3 linked regions of the Homo sapiens genome follow. The protein of the gene in region 3 purifies or fractionates together with the protein of the main gene of each other region. This does not show direct contact. Each region holds a gene or a part of one and is shown on either strand. Other genes may lie near its edges. The genes, in order: SEPTIN8, ZKSCAN8 and RGS3.

What was found.
Region 1: the proteins of RGS3 (region 3) and SEPTIN8 purify together in Homo sapiens (co-immunoprecipitation; 3 studies listed by BioGRID and IntAct, with this or other methods). This does not show direct contact.
Region 2: the proteins of RGS3 (region 3) and ZKSCAN8 purify together in Homo sapiens (co-immunoprecipitation; 3 studies listed by BioGRID and IntAct, with this or other methods). This does not show direct contact.

Annotation. Positions count from the first base shown.
Region 1 is NC_000005.10:132,775,108-132,778,857, reverse strand, and holds the start of SEPTIN8 (septin-8), read left to right. Parts: upstream 1-1,618; 5' UTR 1,619-1,720; coding exon 1,721-1,750; intron 1,751-3,750. UniProt on the Homo sapiens protein: Filament-forming cytoskeletal GTPase. May play a role in platelet secretion. Seems to participate in the process of SNARE complex formation in synaptic vesicles.
Region 2 is NC_000006.12:28,148,233-28,151,882, forward strand, and holds part of ZKSCAN8 (zinc finger protein with KRAB and SCAN domains 8), read left to right. Parts: intron 1-83; 5' UTR 84-175; coding exon 176-592; exon of another isoform or gene 593-606; intron 607-1,250; coding exon 1,251-1,392; intron 1,393-3,612; coding exon 3,613-3,650. UniProt on the Homo sapiens protein: May be involved in transcriptional regulation.
Region 3 is NC_000009.12:113,592,621-113,595,526, forward strand, and holds part of RGS3 (regulator of G-protein signaling 3), read left to right. Parts: intron 1-1,508; exon of another isoform or gene 1,509-1,656; coding exon of another isoform or gene 1,657-1,718; intron 1,719-1,809; coding exon 1,810-1,911; intron 1,912-2,298; coding exon 2,299-2,360; intron 2,361-2,906. UniProt on the Homo sapiens protein: Down-regulates signaling from heterotrimeric G-proteins by increasing the GTPase activity of the alpha subunits, thereby driving them into their inactive GDP-bound form.

The sequences.
Region 1 (3,750 bases), on a different chromosome or scaffold from region 3:
TCAATTCAGTATTGACCACACATTCTCTGGGCTCTGAGATTAAGGCCCTTGTAGTCTAGAGAGGGAGATTTTATTTAATATTATATTTTAAGTACAACTTAAAGCCCTTTACTTATGTTATTTAATCCTGTAACATAGGTGCTATACTTGTTCTCATTTTTAGGACCAGGGAAGGGAGGCATAGTTAAGTAACTTGCCTAGCTAAGGTTAAAAAGCTAGCAGGATTCCACCAGGAAGGTTTGCCATAGATCCAGCTACCCTAACCACTGCTCTGCTCTATTTCTTGTAGATAACTTTAATACAGCATGGGAAACAGCAACATAGAGAGAGGAGCAAAGTGAAAACATTGTCAGGAAGGTCCAGCGGGAAGTCAGTCCACCTTGGGGACAAGCTACAGTTTGCCTGGGAGAGTGAGGAGGGGAAAGCCAAATCAGGGTGACAAGGTCAAACAGCAGAGAGGGGGCTCCTCTTAAGCCAGGTGTGCTAAGTCGAACGTGGTCTTTAGGCACCTCCAGTCAGCACAAGTTTCTGAGTAGGAGAAACAGGTCAGGTTGCTTCTCAGCATACTGGGGTGAGGGGTGTGTGTGGAGGGTGGACCAACCTGGGATGAGGCCAGTGGGGGGTAGGGGGCAAACCTTGCCACATTCCCAGAAAGAGCAGAGAGAAAGGCAGAGGGAAGAGAAAGAAACGGGGTTTCAGAGGATTTGGGAGCTGCTTTTGTATAGATTGTCAGTGAGAAGGATACAGAACCTCCTGAGGCCTCCGACCCTGGCGTAAGTGTTAATTTTCTGAACGTTTTGAGCAGTGACATTAGCGGAGAGAACGTGCACGCACTGGGAGTGGTCATCCTCTTTGCACAATGGTGGAACCATTAAGACGTTGTCCCAAGCCCTTGGGACAGGCAGGGTGATGGACACTTGCAATCTGACGCCTTGACCGTCGAGCTCCGCTTTTCTATTGCAGGAATCCCAGCCTAAACTGCGCATCCTGCTCGTTGGTTGCACAAGGAGCCGAAGGCTGGTCCCTTGCCCGGGAAGGCCGCCTGGCCGGACGCGCGGGTCCCGCCGGGGTTCCCGCCTTAGCTCCGGCCGGAGCATCAGGTGGGGCCCAAGACACCCGCAGACTAGGCTGCCGCGGCCTCTCCCGGATCCGACGGGTCTCCCGCAGCTTGTCCACACTCTGGTTGGTGGTCCCAGCACATTTGCAGGCTCCAGCGGGTGGAGACGGCTTGGTGGGGGAGATCTCTAGGGCGCACGCCGTGCCCCACTTCCCCCTTACGGGAAAGGCTTTCCAGCGCGCGGACCCAGGAGACTCTCACCTAGGCTCGGCCCCAGGCTCCAGGGGACACGCAGAGGCCCGCCGGGCACCAGCCCCGAGCCCCCCGACACTGCCGTCCCGGTCCCCCAACGCGCGGACTACAAGTCCCAGCAGTCCCCGCAGCTGGCACCTCCCGCCTCGCCGCGGAGACCCCCGGCCGTCCAAGCGGCGGGGCTCCGGCTGCGCTCGTGGCCGGGCCGGGCGGGGAGGCCGGTCCCGCGGGCGGGGGCAGGGGCGGCTCCGCGGCTTCTCCCGCCGCCGCCGCCAAGGGGAGTTTCCAGGAAGTGGCCATATTGGATCCATTCAGCCGCAGCCGCCCGGGCGGAGCGCGTCCCGCAGCCGGCTGGTCCCTGTCGCTGCCCCTGCGCTCGTCCCAGCCCACCCGCCCGGTGCGGAGCTCGCCATGGCGGCCACCGACCTGGAGCGCTTCTCGGTGAGGGCCCCGCTGGGCCACGGCGCGCGCGGGAGGCGCGGGGCGCAGGAGGGGCCGCCCTGCAGCTGGCGGGGGGCGCGAAGCGGGCTGTCAGCGCCTCACGGCCGGGCCTCGACACCGGGCCAGCTCGAGGACCCCGGCGCGGGCTCTCGGCCGCGCTATCGGGGGGTCCCGGAGCGTCGGGCGGCCTGCCTTGCCGGGCGGCTGGTCGGGGTCGCTTCCTGGGGCGCAGGCAAGGCTAACCCCTTTCGCGGGAAGGAGCAAAGACCCGCCTGGCTCCGGGCAGGTGCGAAGATAGAGTGGCGCCCGCGGGGCCGCAGGTGAGGGTCCGGGACACTCCGGACCCTATCGCCCAGGGTGTTTCTTTCTGCACACTTGGGGAAGAGTCCTAGCCGCACAGGTGCTGCGGGATAGGTACAGCCGGGGAGGATGGAGGCCCCAGGATCCGAGAGAGTCTCCCACACGAGCCCAGGACAGTTGCAGACTTGAGTCCTGAAGACCCTTGGCCTGCTTTTCCTTCCTCCCCCGCTCCCCTCTGCCCCGCTCCCCACGCCGGAATCCTGGGTGCGACTCCAGGCAGGTCAGGCCTCAGTGGTCGGGTCTGCGGCAGCCATTCGCCAGGAGCTGGAGGGATTCCAGACTCAGCCCAGTGGGCGTTTATTTGGGCTCCAGTCCAGGTCCTCAGAAGGTTGATGTCCCTGGTGGTCCCTGCAGGGGTCTCACTGGGCCTGAGCCTGCCGACAGCCAACTTACTAAAGGCTTTCATAATTCACTCGCGGGAGGGAGGCCTTTGGGGGGTTGTATCTGGACATCCCCTGCTGTCTAAGGCTGGATCTGGGTGTGTCTGGGAGGCTAGGCTGTGACAGTGAAGGAAGCTGTGTCCTCTTGCCAGCATGTAAGGCCCTGGTCGGCTGGAAGGGGGAGGAGGGGGAGAAGGAGGAGGAGGAGGAGGGAGGCCCAGGGCTGTTGGAGGGAAGGGGGAATTCTGAATATGTGAACGATAACGAATTGGTTCTGGGGCTAAATAAGGGAGCCAGGACTTATGTAATTAATGCTATAAATACCGTCATCCCAATTTATATATGTAAATTTTCCATTTAATCTGAAAATACATTTCTTATTCTACTTTGGAAATGTGCATGACTAAAGCAGGAGCTCTTGGTTTCATAATTTCTAGACTCGGGTGTTTTATTCCCATTGGAGAGGGGGTCGTATGTCAGTTAAGTAAGTTTAAATACATGAGGAACAGATTCAGAGGCTGGGCTACTCAGAGATTCACTTCGCCCCGTATTATAAATTGGAATTTATGTACCGGAGGAGGGCAGTGCCTGAATCCTAACAGACCTGCTGATTAGCTGGAGGCCAAGAGACCCGTGAGTGCCTGGGTGTCTCTGCATGTGTGTCTGTGTGCATTTTCTGTGCCCAGCTGACCAGAAAGTTATGTCTGGGTCTTGTCTGTGGCCAGAGGTTTAACAGTTGATGTTGCAGGTGGGAGAGGTATGTAGAGAAACCAGAATCAGACAGCCTGATAGGAATCCTAGACACTCCTTGTTGGCCATGTGACCTTGGGCAGGTTATTTAACCCCTTGGTGCTCTCATGCGTATAATGGGATAGAAATATTTCTTCCCTCATAGGGGTATTGTGAGGATTCAACAAGAGAATCCAGGGGAGGTACTTAGCCCTGTGTCTGGCACATGGTAAGGACACAATAAATAATATATGCTACCTATTGTCCACGTGGATGTGAGGACTGGCCCCCTATGTAAGAAGGGAGCAGAGGATGCATTTGCCCTGTTCATGGCACTCTCTGTAGAGCTTCCATCCCTGCTCGTCCAGAGATGGTCCTCAGAGGGTTAGCTGAGAGGCCATGCTGTGGGCTGGTCAAGCCTTCCCCTGGGGTCCTGTGTTTGCTCTCGGACCATTCCTGTGAGGAGTTTTGGTATTAGCTGCGGGGTGGCCAGGGCACAGAGAGGGGACTGACTCAGGCAAGGGCGTAGAG
Region 2 (3,650 bases), on a different chromosome or scaffold from region 3:
ATACTAAGGAACTTGTTAAGATACCATAGTTAGTTACAATGACTTTTGACTTGCCTTAACACTATCATATTTTCTTCATGAAGAAGTACCCTTAGAAAGAGGCCCTCAGAAGAGTCTTCTCTTAAGAAGATAAAGAAGGTAGTGGAAACGAACTTCCTGAGCTTTTCAGGCTCTAATGGCTGAAGAATCAAGAAAGCCTTCAGCCCCATCCCCACCAGACCAGACTCCTGAAGAGGATCTTGTAATCGTCAAGGTAGAGGAGGATCATGGTTGGGACCAGGAATCTAGTCTGCATGAAAGTAACCCTCTTGGCCAAGAAGTGTTCCGCCTGCGCTTCAGGCAGTTACGCTACCAGGAGACACTAGGACCCCGAGAAGCTCTGATCCAACTACGGGCCCTTTGCCATCAGTGGCTGAGGCCAGATTTGAACACCAAGGAACAGATCCTGGAGCTGCTGGTGCTGGAGCAGTTCTTGACCATCCTACCTGAGGAGCTCCAGACACTGGTTAAGGAACATCAGCTAGAGAACGGAGAGGAGGTGGTGACCCTATTAGAGGATTTGGAAAGGCAGATTGATATACTAGGACGACCAGTAAGTAGAAGGAGGTATGCGTGCTATGACTGTGGGAGTCCTGGAAGCTTGGTAGAGGGACATAGGCATCACAGTGGGAGAGCAGATGCTTAGCATCAGTTTCTGTTGGATAAGGATGACAATAGTTTTAGTGTAGTATGACTTGTAGAGTTCTTTTTACTTTTGTAAAGGATATAAATCCATTTTGTTTTTGTCGTCATAACATCCCTACGACTGTATTGTTCTTGTTTGCCAGATGGGAACTTGATGCATAGGAAGCTTAAGTTAATTTTTCAGGGGTATCCAAATAATTAAAGGTAAATTTGAGACCAGAAATCAGGCTTTCTAGTTCCTTATTAAAAGATTTTTCTACTGCATAGCACTGCTTTAAGTTTGTTGTTTTCCTCCTTCCTCTGCCTTAGGAGTACAAAATATTGGTGTTCTGTGTAACAGGGAAGGCATCAGCAGAAATCTTTTCCTTTAGTACTAAGCAAAAATGATGCCTTTCTTTCTGTGCTCATTACGTATTCGTGTTCCTTACTGTCCCTAAGAAGTGAGGAAGATTCTGCTGCTTCCTTCCCCAAGCATATATCCCTGTAGATGTGTTCGTGGTCCTCTTTCATTGTTCATTACATTTCGCAAAGGGATTCCTTATTATCCAACTGTCTGTTGTTTCCAGGTCTCAGCTCGCGTACATGGACATAGGGTACTCTGGGAGGAGGTAGTACATTCAGCATCTGCACCAGAGCCTCCAAATACTCAGCTCCAATCTGAGGCAACCCAACATAAATCTCCAGTGCCCCAAGAGTCACAAGAGAGAGGTGAGTAGCCAGATTTCATTGATGATAAGGGGGGGAAGTACAAATAAAAGTCCATTTGGGATACCTATCTAGTTCCTGAAGAACCAGGAACTAAAATCCTGTTTACAGACCAGTCCCAAAGTCTGTGTTTAAATGTTTAGGCTTCAAATATAGATTATTCTTTCTAGTGGTAAACTCATGAACAAATTAAATAATTTGACTTTTTTTTTTTTAATTTTTTTTCCTTTTATTATTATACTTTAAGTTTTAGGGTACATGTGCACATTGTGCAGGTTAGTTACATATGTATACATGTGCCATATTTCTGTTACCACAGTACATTTACAACATACATTTTTGAGGTTATGCTGGTATTGTCATGCCACTTTATTTGGAAATATTTCAGTATGTATTTCCTCAGACGAGCATTTCTTAGGTAACTTAAATAAATAAATTCCTAAATTTATCACAATTAAGAAATGTAGTATTGCTACAATACTAACCTAGGCCATAGTTCATATTTTGACAGTTGCCCCAATTATGTTCTTTCTGGTTCAGAGTCTAGTCTGGCGTCACACTTTGTGGTTAGTTGTCATGGCTGTTTAGTCTCCTTTACTTTGGAATAGTTCCTCAACCTTTCTTTTTTTTTGAAGAGTACAGGTGTGTTATTTTGTAGAATGGCTGCAGTTTGGATTTGCGTGATGTTTGATCATGTTTACATTGAGGTCATATATATTTGGCAGGAACACCTCACCCTGCCAAGGATACATGACCTAAATCTTAACAAGAGATGTTGTACTCCTTCTTAGGGGTACAACAGGAATTTGTCCTATTATTGGTGGTGTTATCTTTGATGACTTGGTTAAGGTTATTCTTGCAGGGTTAATCATTGTATAGTTACTATTTTTCCCTTTGTAACTAATAAGTAATTTGTGGAAGATACTCTTGAGTGTATTTAAATATCTTAGTCCTCATTAAACTTTGTTGCTAAAACACTAGTTTTAGTGTTCATTGGTACTTCTTGACTGACTTAGTGATTACTAGAATGGTTATGAAATAGTGATTTTCTAACTCTGTCATTCCTTCTACATTTCTTTATTGTAAAGGAGAGTGCTCCCTTCTCCCAATTTTATTATTTTTTATTTATCAGTATGGACTCAAATTCGTATTTATTCCATAAATATTCTGTTACTGTCTTTATTTTGTTTTTGTTTTGTCTTTGAGACAGAGTCTCACTCTGTCATCCAGGCTGGAGTACAGTGGCACGATCTCAGCTCACTGCAGCTTCTGCCTCCCGGGTTCCAGCGATTCTTAATCCTCAGCTTCCCCAGTAGCTGGGATTACAGGTGCACGCCACCATGCCTGGCTAATTTTTGTATTTTTGTAGAGACGAGGTTTCACTGTGTTGGCCAGGCTGGTCTCGAACTCCTAGCCTCAAGCGATCTGCCCACTTCAGCCTCCCAAAGTGCTGGGATTACAGCCATGAGCCACTGTGCTCGGCCACTGTCTTTATTTTGCTAAATCATCTCAGATTTGGCCATAGAAGGCCCCTTCAGTCTGGCTCTTGTATCCTCTTGACATTTTCCCATTGTTTTTTTGAGAATTTTTTTACTTTATTGCAGAATGAGGTGTTCCAGTCTCATCTTCCCCTGCATTTCATATTTTTTCATTAATGTGATTTAGAGTAGTTTATAAATATGAATTTTTAATATTTCTAAAGAAGCATTAAAACACTTAATACTTCTTGTCTAAAGTCCTAAAGCTTGTTACCTGAGATACAGTAATCTATATTTTAATAATAAGCCGTTTAATATCTATAGAAAGCAAATACTGGGAGCCATAGTAGACATTTCAGAAAGGTAATTAATTAATAGAGACTGGTTGATTCTGATACTTGGTTTGCCAAGAGATTAGGACCTAAGGAAATACTGTATACAGCCACAAAGACAGAAGTAGTTTTGATGGTAGAGAAGAAATTGAAAAGCGATTCCTGTTAGGAAACCAGTATACTTTCTATTTTTGAGTGTAACTTCAGTCTGACTTCAGGGACATCGGGGTGCGTATGTTTTGTGGGGCAGCCATAGATATGGCCCCAGAATCCAAGATATCAGCACTTCATGTGCAAAATCTTTGGCATACATGTATATCTGCTGAAATAAAAATAATTTGGAATGGGTGAGTGCCAGCTCCCACAACCACAGGACAGGACTGGTCTCATTCATAGCTCCTTTCTCCTCTCAGCCATGTCTACTTCCCAGAGTCCTACTCGTTCCCAGAAA
Region 3 (2,906 bases):
TTACAGGTGTGTGCCATCACACCCAGCAAATTTTTTTTGTACTTTTAGTAGAGATGGGGGTTTTGCCATGTTGGCCAGGCTGTTCTCAAACTCCTGGCCTCAAGTGATCTTCCCGCCTCGGCCTCCCAAAGTGCTGGGATTACAGACATGAGCCACCATGCCTGGCCTCTGAAGGTCATACTCTTAAAAGCTTAGACGAAGAGTCTTAGAACATCTACGGTAATAATAAGAATAACCATTAATGTTTATTATGCCCCGCACTGTTCTGTGTGTATTTCATATGTAATCTAATTTAATCTTTACCACTACTTTTATTTTCCGTTCTGTTCTTTCTTATTGACCTTACCCTTATTTTACACGTGAATAAACTACTGTGCAAAGAGGCTAAGTTACATGGCAAGAAAGTGGTGGGGTTGGGACCTGGAGACCTGGCCTGCTGGCTTCTGTTTGAGGAAACAGCTTGACAGAGAAAAAACCTTGATAGGAAACTTGAGAGATCAGGAAACGTGTCAAAGGGCACACAGCTGGTAACTGCTGGAGCTGGGATTTGAACCCAAGACTAGCTCCAGAGCCTGGGATCAGCCTCCCCTGCAGGACTCTCCTTCATTAGACAGGGTGTCTAGGTCTTAGTGCCATTTTAAGCTTGAATAGCATCAGAAGTATAAATGCTTCAAACTTACCAAACCCCCTTGAAAGTTTAATTATTAAATTTCTTTTGCACGTCTTTAGTTATGTGATTTTTGAATAATCAATTTTTCATTTTCATTTTTGGTTTGAGTCAGCATTTTCCATCTTTGGGAGGATGGAGACCAAAACTTAAAGTGAAACATTTATTATTCGAAAATCACAAAACCATGCACACAACATTAAATAATTAAACTTTAAAATGGTGTTTTTGTAAGTTTATAGGACTTGTACTTCTGAAGTTATTCAGGCTTAAAACTACTAAGATGTTGGGGTCCTGCTGTATATTCATGACTGGATGTCGCCAATGCAGGTGACTGAGGCTGAGAGGCCGGCTGGCAGGAGCCATTCTCTGGGAGGTGCCCTGTACAGGGGGTCTAGGGAAAAGAGGGGCGAACATGAGCAAGAGGCATTTAACTCCTTTCTTGCCAGCAGTTTCACCCAGTGCTGAATTCTGCTGCCTCCTTGGGGACCGGCAAGGCTAAAAATGGTTCTTGGCTAAAAATAGCCAGTCCTGCCACCCCGGTGGTGGGCAGTGCCTCCCCTGGCTCCCTCCTTCCCTTTCAGCAATTTGCTGACTTGTCCCCCACCCCCCACCACTGTCTCCCTGCTGCCATGGTAACGAGGAGGCCAGTCACAAATAGCTGGGACTGGCTTCCTGCCGGGGCGGCCCCAGAGGCTGTCCCTTGCAGACACATGCCCCTTTCACGGCTCCCTCTCAGGGTTGGCCAGAAGGAATTTTTTTTTCCGCTCCCCCTCCTGGTCCCTCCCATTTCCTGGCTCCTCCTGTCTGAGTCCCAGCCCCGGCTTGTGCCTGGGAGTCCAGTCATCAGGCCAGGATTCCAGAGAGCGTGTGTGGCTGCAGCCTGCACCGTTGCTGCCCGCTGCCCAGGACGCGGGGTGGGGGACAGGAGCCAGAGTGGTGCCTCCTACAGACCAATCTGCGGCCCCAAGGTGGGGGGCCCTACAGAGATGCTCCGAGGCATGTACCTCACTCGCAACGGGAACCTGCAGAGGCGACACACGATGAAGGAGTAGGTGCCCTCGACCCAGCTCTCCCGACTCTGGATTTGCAGGGGCGAGTGGGCCAGGCTGAGCAACCCTCTTTTCTGCTTCTGTCCCCAGAGCCAAGGACATGAAGAACAAGCTGGGGATCTTCAGACGGCGGAATGAGTCCCCTGGAGCCCCTCCCGCGGGCAAGGCAGACAAAATGATGAAGTCATTCAAGTAGGTCCTCCCTGGCACCCTGGGACCCTTTGGGGAACTCACTGGCTCCCCGGGGAGTAGGACTGAGTGGTAGGGTTGAGGGGAAGGGGCTTGCCGGCTTGATCCAGCTCTGGGGGAGACAGGCTTTCACAGAGGGAGCTGGGTACCTGGCAAGCAGCTACCCTCACAGGGAGCAGCTGCCCTAGGGGGAAGGCTAGGTGGGGTGGAGATGGGGGCTGGAAGGGACCCTGGCCCCGGGAAAGAGGGTGGGCCTCCTTCCTGGGCGCCCCAGCTGGGCTCAGCTGCAGACTGGGCCCAGGGCAGTAAACAAAGGCCGCCTGGCCCAGCTTCCCCCAAGGTTCCCAAGCCTCTCAGTGCCCTCACTGTGTTTCCTCCCTCACCCCTCAGGCCCACCTCAGAGGAAGCCCTCAAGTGGGGCGAGTCCTTGGAGAAGCTGCTGGTTCACAAATGTAAGTTGGGCCTGCCTGCCCACTCCCTGTGCCCTCTCTCCCTCTCCCCTTCGCCCCCATCCAGACCCTGTGTAGCTGGTGCTAGAGAGGCCGCCTTCCCTCTCCTCGGCCGTCAGGGTGTCCTTGCTGTTGCGGAGGGGCTGAGCCCAAGCTGAGGCCCTTGGTCTGGCCTTGGAGCCAGCTTCTGCCAGCCCCTCCCCGTCCATGTGAGCTGGCACTGCCTGCCGGAGGCCCGTGGGACCTGTGTGCTCAGATCCATATTCCCAGAATAAGAATAAACATTTCTACGTACTGAGGGCTTTCACGGCGCCAAATGTGCCTGCCATCTCATGGGCAGGGTCCCATCGGCTCCTCCCAGGGCTCCGGGAGACAGAATCGATAGTCCCCATTTCACAGATGAAGACACTGAGGCATAGAGAGGGGGAGACCCCACTGAGACCCTGAAAGAGGCAGTGGCAGGGCTGGGGCCACATCCCAGGGCTCCTGGCTGTCGGGGACGGGCATTGTACTCAGCTCCCAGCACGCCCATCTTTAAAGTCCTGTAGG